Homo sapiens: one gene and its partner. The protein of the gene in region 1 purifies or fractionates together with the protein of each later gene. This does not show direct contact. Each region holds a gene or a part of one and is shown in the gene's direction. Other genes may lie near its edges.

Region 1 (4,119 bases):
TCCCCTTTGGTTTCCTAGGAAACATCTCTTGGGATGTGACTTGATTTCTTCTAGTTTTTGCTTCTAAAATCAGTGTTTTTCTCTTGATAAATACTGCTTTGCCACTGTACTTTTTCATTTTGAGATTATAATGACAGAATAGTGTAATTTTTGAAGTGCAGCGAGCAATTGATTACCCTTCTTGAGATGTGGAATAGCATTCAACAGAACAGGTAAAATCAGAAATAATGTCACTTGCTTGTAGACCAGCTTCTGACTTGAGAAGTAAAAGGGCCTGTTTGCTTAGTTTTTGACACATTATGTAGTTCATGAAATTTGAGAATCGTAGCACTGAAGGAAACTCTGGGGACCATATGTTGTGACATTCCACACACCATCCTGGAAGCCTCTTTAGTTTTTCTAACAGAGAGCAACATTTAAATGACCATAGCTCTAGTCCTCTTGTCCATGACAAAATGTCCATCAGCAGTGAGTAGGAAAAGGACTGTATGTGTAATCATAGCCCATGGCTAGGTGTCAAGGGATCCTTGGGACCTTTGTGGCCTGTTAGCAAGAGAGTCTGTGTGTCATTTGCCACTTTAGCAAGAGAGTCTGTGTGTCATTTGCCACTGGTTTCAGTGTTAAGTTTGTAGATTTTTATGTGTAGAGCTTAGTGGCAGCACCTTGGTTTCTTTGGGAACAGCTGGCTTTCAGCTCAGCAGAATGTGTTACACCTAATGGATGTTCCAGGATCTGTGGACGCCTTGAATTTGAGCTCTGTCACATCCATTCCCTGCCTTCTGCTCAGCATAAACCAGGATTAAACGATCCTAAGAATCTTTAGCAGTCTTAATAATGTATGGGTTTCTCTACCCCCTTCTCTTCTTTTTTCCCCTCCAGTTTCACTCTCATCAGCTGTTTCATATCTTTGTGGTTGCTGGAGCTTTTGTTCACTTCCATGGTGTCTCAAACCTCCAGGAGTTTCGTTTCATGATCGGCGGGGGCTGCAGTGAAGAGGATGCACTGTGATACCTACCAGTCTCCAGGGACTATGACCCTAAACCAGGGCCTGCGGCACTTGCGGGCCTCCCTGCTGGCTACTGATGCCAGTACCAGAGGAGCCCCAAAACTTTGACAGCCTCGTGGGCTTTGTGACGGCCCAGTGGCTCTGCGTGGTACATGACTGAGAAGAGAAAAACAAAAATAAATCATACCTCAAAGGATGGAGTGCATCAATTGGGAGAAAAGGAGACATAGCCCAAACCCTGGCTTATTCTTGGGATCTACTGATTGCGGGCTCTGCAAGACCCTTGGCAAACTGGCTTCTGATCCATATCATATTTATTTGTAGAAGATGGCGAAACAGTTTAGCTGGTGGTTCTTTCTTCTCCCTTTCTCTCTCTCTATGACAATAATACAAACCAATTTAAGTGAACATTTATATCCGATAAGGGGTGGGAGTGTGATTTTAAATGCTCTTTTGGGAGAACAAAGAAATTAATGTAAATAAGATTTCTAACTGTTTAAATAAGACTTTATATAAATGTTTAAAACATAGGGGTAAGGGAGGGAGGGAGAATTTTTGTATAGAATGAAACATGCAAGTACCACACACTGTTTGAATTTTGCACAAAAAGTGACTGTAGGATCAGGTGATAGCCCCGGAATGTACAGTGTCTTGGTGCACCAAGATGCCTTCTAAAGGCTGACATACCTTGGACCCTAATGGGGCAGAGAGTATAGCCCTAGCCCAGTGGTGACATGACCACTCCCTTTGGGAGGCCTGAGGTAGAGGGGAGTGGTATGTGTTTTCTCAGTGGAAGCAGCACATGAGTGGGTGACAGGATGTTAGATAAAGGCTCTAGTTAGGGTGTCATTGTCATTTGAGAGACTGACACACTCCTAGCAGCTGGTAAAGGGGTGCTGGAGGCCATGGAGGAGCTCTAGAAACATTAGCATGGGCTGATCTGATTACTTCCTGGCATCCCGCTCACTTTTATGGGAAGTCTTATTAGAGGGATGGGACAGTTTTCCATATCCTTGCTGTGGAGCTCTGGAACACTCTCTAAATTTCCCTCTATTAAAAATCACTGCCCTAACTACACTTCCTCCTTGAGGGAATAGAAATGGACCTTTCTCTGACATAGTTCTTGGCATGGGAGCCAGCCACAAATGAGATTCTGACGTGTCCAGGTTTCTCCTGAGCTCATCTACATAGATTGGTAGACCCTTCCTTTGGATTAGGAAAGATGAGTTTTACCTCTGGTACACTGTCTTGGTAAGCCTGGATGTGACAGACACCTCGGCTCTCCTTGAATAAGAAAGCCAGCAGAACTCTTAAAGCCAGTTGTAGTACGGAGTTGTCAGCACTCACTGAACCTCACTTTACAGGGATAAGAGTGGTGTGGCATTTTAAATACAATGGTATGTTATTGCCAGGGAGTGAGGTACAAGACGATGGCTCATGTCACAGGCCTACCTGATACGGTGTCAGAGAAAGTGGTGGGGAAAGGATCTGGTTCATGGAATTCTGATCTTGGCCCATAGGTGAACCACCAAAATAGTGCTCGAGTCTTAGGTTACTGTCATCAAAGACTTGGGATGACTCCATTATATCCTGGGGTTGTGGGTATTAGAACTAAATATGGAGGTCCTGAGCATGGGGACTGGCGTCCTCAGTAGGTGTTTGGGAATATGGGAAGGGTCTCCTATTTATTCAATAGAGTTTTCTCAGTTATTTTCCTCCCTTGCCCTTGCAATCTCCAGCAAAAGGTGGGATCTAGGAAGAAAGAATCCAGTGTAGAAGTTGAGAAGAACTTGAACGTTTTGGTTCTGGATAAGGTCACTGTCCTAGGTGCTAGGTGGACCGAGCAAAAGACTCAGTGGATGAACTGGTGCAGTGCCTGACAGAATAAAGAACAGTATTAATCCCTTTGAGAAAGCATAGTCCAGCAGGACAGTGGCCATTTGGACAGAAGCCCACTTAGTTTCTTGGGAGCAACAGCACGTATCAGAAGCCAGACTTGCTCTTCGGTCATGCACTTTGGGATACAGCGTATAGGTGCAGCCCTGTCACAACACCAACAGAAGTAGCAGCCTCTGGGTGCAGTCACCCACACCCCAAAGCTGGAAGGATCTGGTTCAACATAGCACAAACCCTTAGGAAAAATGAAATTAACATCACTGATGTGTAATCCAGTAAAATCTCCCTTTTTCGGGTGTGTATGTGGGCATGTGCCCATTTCTATGTGTGTGTCTACGTGCAGCTCACTACCAACAGCCTCATGTGCACTTGACCTGACAGTGCTCGCTGAGAACTCTCACCAGGTTGGCGCCTGAATGCCTTACTCTCAGCAGTCAGAGGCTTGCTTGCTCTGTGCAGATTTTTAATTTTCTTTTTTGGCCCTAGGCTGGTTGGGACCTCTACAGCTTCATTCTTTCACCATTAAATAGTGGCCTTTTTCAGTATTTTCCCTCTTCCCCTTTATAAATTATGCTAAAGCCACAAAGCACATTTTTGGGGATCATAGAAGGTTGGGGTTCCAGAAAGGCATCTGTGTGATGGTTCCATTGATGTGGGATTTCCCTACTTGCTGTATTCTCAGTTTCTAATAAAAAGAACCAAATGAAATATGACCTGTCGTGTGTTTTTTTATTGCCGTTCAGCTTACCTCCCCTTGGCTTTTGGCACTTCTCTGAAGCTCTAATTTAGACACTGTGATTTAAGAAATTTTTGGAAACTTCCCCTTCGGGATGCAGAAATCAAAGTGCTTATGCCCAACTCCTGTTTCCTAACTCAAGCTTTCCTCGTAAGTTGCACCAGGTTTAGAATGGAGGGGAGAGCAGCTCTAAGGGGCAGTTCTTATTTATTATTGAAGTTTATAAAAATAGTCTCTAATGCCAAGGGCAATAGGCTCTACCATAAAGCCTGGGTGTGTAGTAGGCTGTACCATCTAGGTTTGTGTAAGTGCATTCTATGATGTTTGCGTGACAACGAAATCAACTAATTATGAAATCACTTAATGATACATTTCTCAGAATGTATCTCTTTTGTTAAGTGAAACATTACAAAATTTATTTTTTTGGGCACGGTGGCTCACTCCTGTAATCCCAGCACTTTGGGAGGCCAAGGCGGGCGGA
Region 2 (3,514 bases), on another chromosome or scaffold:
AGTGTTTGTTTCTTTTTATATATATAAAATAAGTCACTTTTCATTTGCATATTTTATGAAGCTTTACAACTTGATTTCATCAATTAGTAATTACGGAATTATTTAACATTTTCTGATTTATTTAGTATTTTAAAAAATTTCAAAAGTAATACAGATAAGAATACATTTATAAAAAAATTAAACAACATTTTACTCTTTACCAATCATGTACATTCTTTTATATCCTTTTTTAAGGATAACTTGGATTTAGACATGATAGATTTCACTATGACCATTTGATGAATGAAGATACACATATTCTCCAGTTGAATTGCTTTTAAGTTTTGAGAGTATACACATGAATTGAAATGTATATTTATCACGCTTGTATTTGTTTATTTCAGTGGTCAAGGAAGTTTGCTCCAACCTTTTATATACTATAGATTTCTTACCCTTCGATATTCGTCTCGAAGAAACCCATATTGTCGGTAAGCTGATGATTATTTTAGGCATGTTTTATTTGTTGAGAGTATTGTGAATATATAGTATTCGCAATTCTTAAGAGTTACTTAGCTAATGTGTTAGACTTTAGAAGCAAGCAGTGTTTTTGTAAATTTAAGTTCTAGGCCTTAGAATGTACTGGGGTTGGTGAGGAAGTGGTTGTATTTGTTCTTAGAAACTGAGACTGCAGTTATCTACGCCACCTCTAAAGCACTGCTAAAACTTAGCAAATTTTAAAATGTATAAGACATAGATTCCACTCTCAACTTTCCTAGTTGAAGAAACAAAACACGTGTCAATTAGATAAACAATGGTTAGGATACAGAATTCACAAGCCAATAGATAATGAATGCCATATGTTTGCTTTATTATATCAGTACTGCAGTCCACAGAAGGGAGAGATCATTGGGCCAGAAGATAGATGAGCCCAGGAAGGTTTCACAAAATTGAGATTGTGGGAGGAGTAAAGCTTTTGAATAGGGAAAAGCATTTTAGGTGGGGCAAGAGAGACGAGAAGCACAAGCCATATTTGAGGAACTTTATGTAGAGCTGTTTTGACTCTAATGGAGATTCTGAATGGCTAATTGCTGGAGCTAAGATTAGAAAGGTATATTGGAGCTATATTATAAAACTTCTTGAGTTTTAGGGTAAGAAGTTTGGAATTTATCTTTTAGGTGAATGGGAATGATGGTTTTGACATCGTCAGAATATTCTTCTGATACCCTTGTGCCAGAAGAGTTTGAAGCAGAAAAATGGGGAAGCAGAGAAATTTTAGGGAATTACTGTAGTTTTCAGGAATGGAGGCTTAAATTAATATACACTAAATTATGCATTCTGATCTCAAGCATTGGAGTAAAACTAAAATGATACTCAAATACTAATATTAAGATAATCTATTTTTAAGTTTAAAATAATGTAGAATTCAGCTAGAAATCCAATGAGTGCATTACAGCAATCTGTATATTTTCATAAGTACAGTAAAAAGAACTTGAATTTGAATGCTGGCCCATCATTAACTAGTTGTGTGACTAGGCAGGTTATTTATTTGGATTTCTTCATTGGTAGAGGAAATAACTCCTTCTGGGGGTGAAGCGAAGTAATATTTTAAAAGTACTTAGACTGTTATGTTCTTACTAGTTCATTTTCATTATTCTATGATCTGATTTTCTGTTCAGAGCGTTTTTATGCTCTATTAGACAATGTCTTTTTTATAATACTTTCTAAAATAGAACTTATTTTAGACATTCGTTCTTAGTGAGTCTCTAGTAGCAAATTAACATTCATTTTTACTTGATTTCTTGAGTTTTAGCCTTTTTTCTTTCTGGTCCCTATATTCATTTCAGACATTATCTTATATTCTCTTGCCCTGACATCTGTTATTTTAATCAGCATATTTGTTTTTCTGTGCTTCTTTGTGCCTCCTTCTCCATTCCCATTTTCTTCACATACCCTTAAATCATATTAGTACATCTAGAATTCAGTTTTCAGTGGACTGAAAAGGAAAGGATAGCAGTGAATCAAGATAACACAAATATGTGCTGGTAAACATCTTCAAAGCTGTCTTATAAGCACCCATTTTAACCAAACCAGTGGAAAGGTAATGGAAAATATTTCAGCTTGTAAATATTGATAAACAGGCTATAAAACTACATTTTCAGTACTACACTTTTTTTAATTAAAGGTTTTGAGACCATCTCTATTCACAATTTGTACCATTTTCACCTACGATATTTATTCTCAAGTTGGTGGTTTCAGTTGTTTTTGGATCTCTAGTGCAGATTGTCTATAGCTGTGCTGTCCAGTACAGCACAGCAACCACATTTGACCTTTAAATAAAATTCATAAAACTTAGAACTTGGTTCCTTTTGAGCACAGTTCAGGTGGGTACTCAAAAGCCATGTGTTGCTGATGGCAACTGTGGGTCAGCACACATATGCAAAAATTTTGTCATTACTCAAAGTTCTGTTGTCAGTGCTATTAAGGAACTCTCTGACTGGTCCTTCAGCACAGATATGCAAAAATTTTATCATTGTTCAAAGTTCTGTTGTCCGTGCTGTTAAGGAACTCTGACTTGGTCTGTGCCAGCGATGCAGCCAGTAATAAAAGAACTATGTGACTTTAGTGAAAGCGATTGACTTCATTAGTCCTCATGTCTTCTAGCTTTATTCATTTGACTGATTGGTTAAAACAGTGATTGTATGTTGATGAACTTATGTGGAATTAAAATATCTTCTTTCAGAGGTACTCACTGCTGAATAAATTAGACAGCTATGTAAGTCAGTGTGATGATGAAGGTGCTCTGAAAGCATAGAGAACAGACAGAGACAAATAAGAATTCACTGAGGAGGTGGGAACATAAGCCAAGTCTTTTAAAGAATGAGCCTGAGTTCTGACACATGGGTGCCTGAAAAGTGCTTAGCATACTTGAGCTCAGGAAGTATATAGAGAATTGATAAATATCTGTGTCCACAAAGGTAGATGGTAGAAAGGACTAGATCATGAAAGGGTTTGGATTTTATTTTGAGGTAAGGAGAGCCTTTGAAGATTGTAACATAGAGAGGCTGGGAACCCCCATGATGAAATCTGATTTAGAAATATTCCAGAAAATGGATTGCAAGCTCAGCAAGAGAAGAAAAATATCAATTTGGAGACTATTAGAGTAGTCTAGAGCCTGAATTAATCCAGTGGTAAAAGGAAAAGGGGACAAATATGAAAGGTATTAGGAGATAGGATATTAGGGCTTGAGAGAAAAGAGTAAATTAAAGACCCACAGGTTTCTGGCTTGGAAGCCTAAGAGTTGTAATGGTGCTCTCACGAAGACAGGAGATACAGGAAGGGCAGGTTTTGGAAAATTATGCATTACTCCAAATATTATTATTCCTGTCTTTCTGTGCAAGCATATTAAATACTTGTTTAGAAAAGTAGATTTGTTGCTTTTTTTCTAACCATAGAAGTAAAACAGGACACAAAAAGGTAGAATAGTAGTTGCATCTTTATACAGGATGAGTCAGCACATAAGGTGAAAATTGTGAAT

Evidence for each region. Proteins that work in one complex are often made in the same cells at the same time.
Region 2: the proteins of ADIPOR2 (region 1) and TMEM33 purify together in Homo sapiens (affinity purification with mass spectrometry, with the first as the bait; one study listed by BioGRID). This does not show direct contact.

The regions. Positions count from the first base shown.
Region 1 is NC_000012.12:1,785,065-1,789,183, forward strand, and holds the end of ADIPOR2 (adiponectin receptor protein 2), read left to right. Parts: intron 1-879; coding exon 880-1,008; 3' UTR 1,009-3,610; downstream 3,611-4,119. UniProt on the Homo sapiens protein: Receptor for ADIPOQ, an essential hormone secreted by adipocytes that regulates glucose and lipid metabolism. Required for normal body fat and glucose homeostasis.
Region 2 is NC_000004.12:41,948,919-41,952,432, forward strand, and holds part of TMEM33 (transmembrane protein 33), read left to right. Parts: intron 1-383; coding exon 384-467; intron 468-3,514. UniProt on the Homo sapiens protein: Acts as a regulator of the tubular endoplasmic reticulum (ER) network by modulating intracellular calcium homeostasis. Mechanistically, stimulates PKD2 calcium-dependent activity. Suppresses the RTN3/4-induced formation of the ER tubules.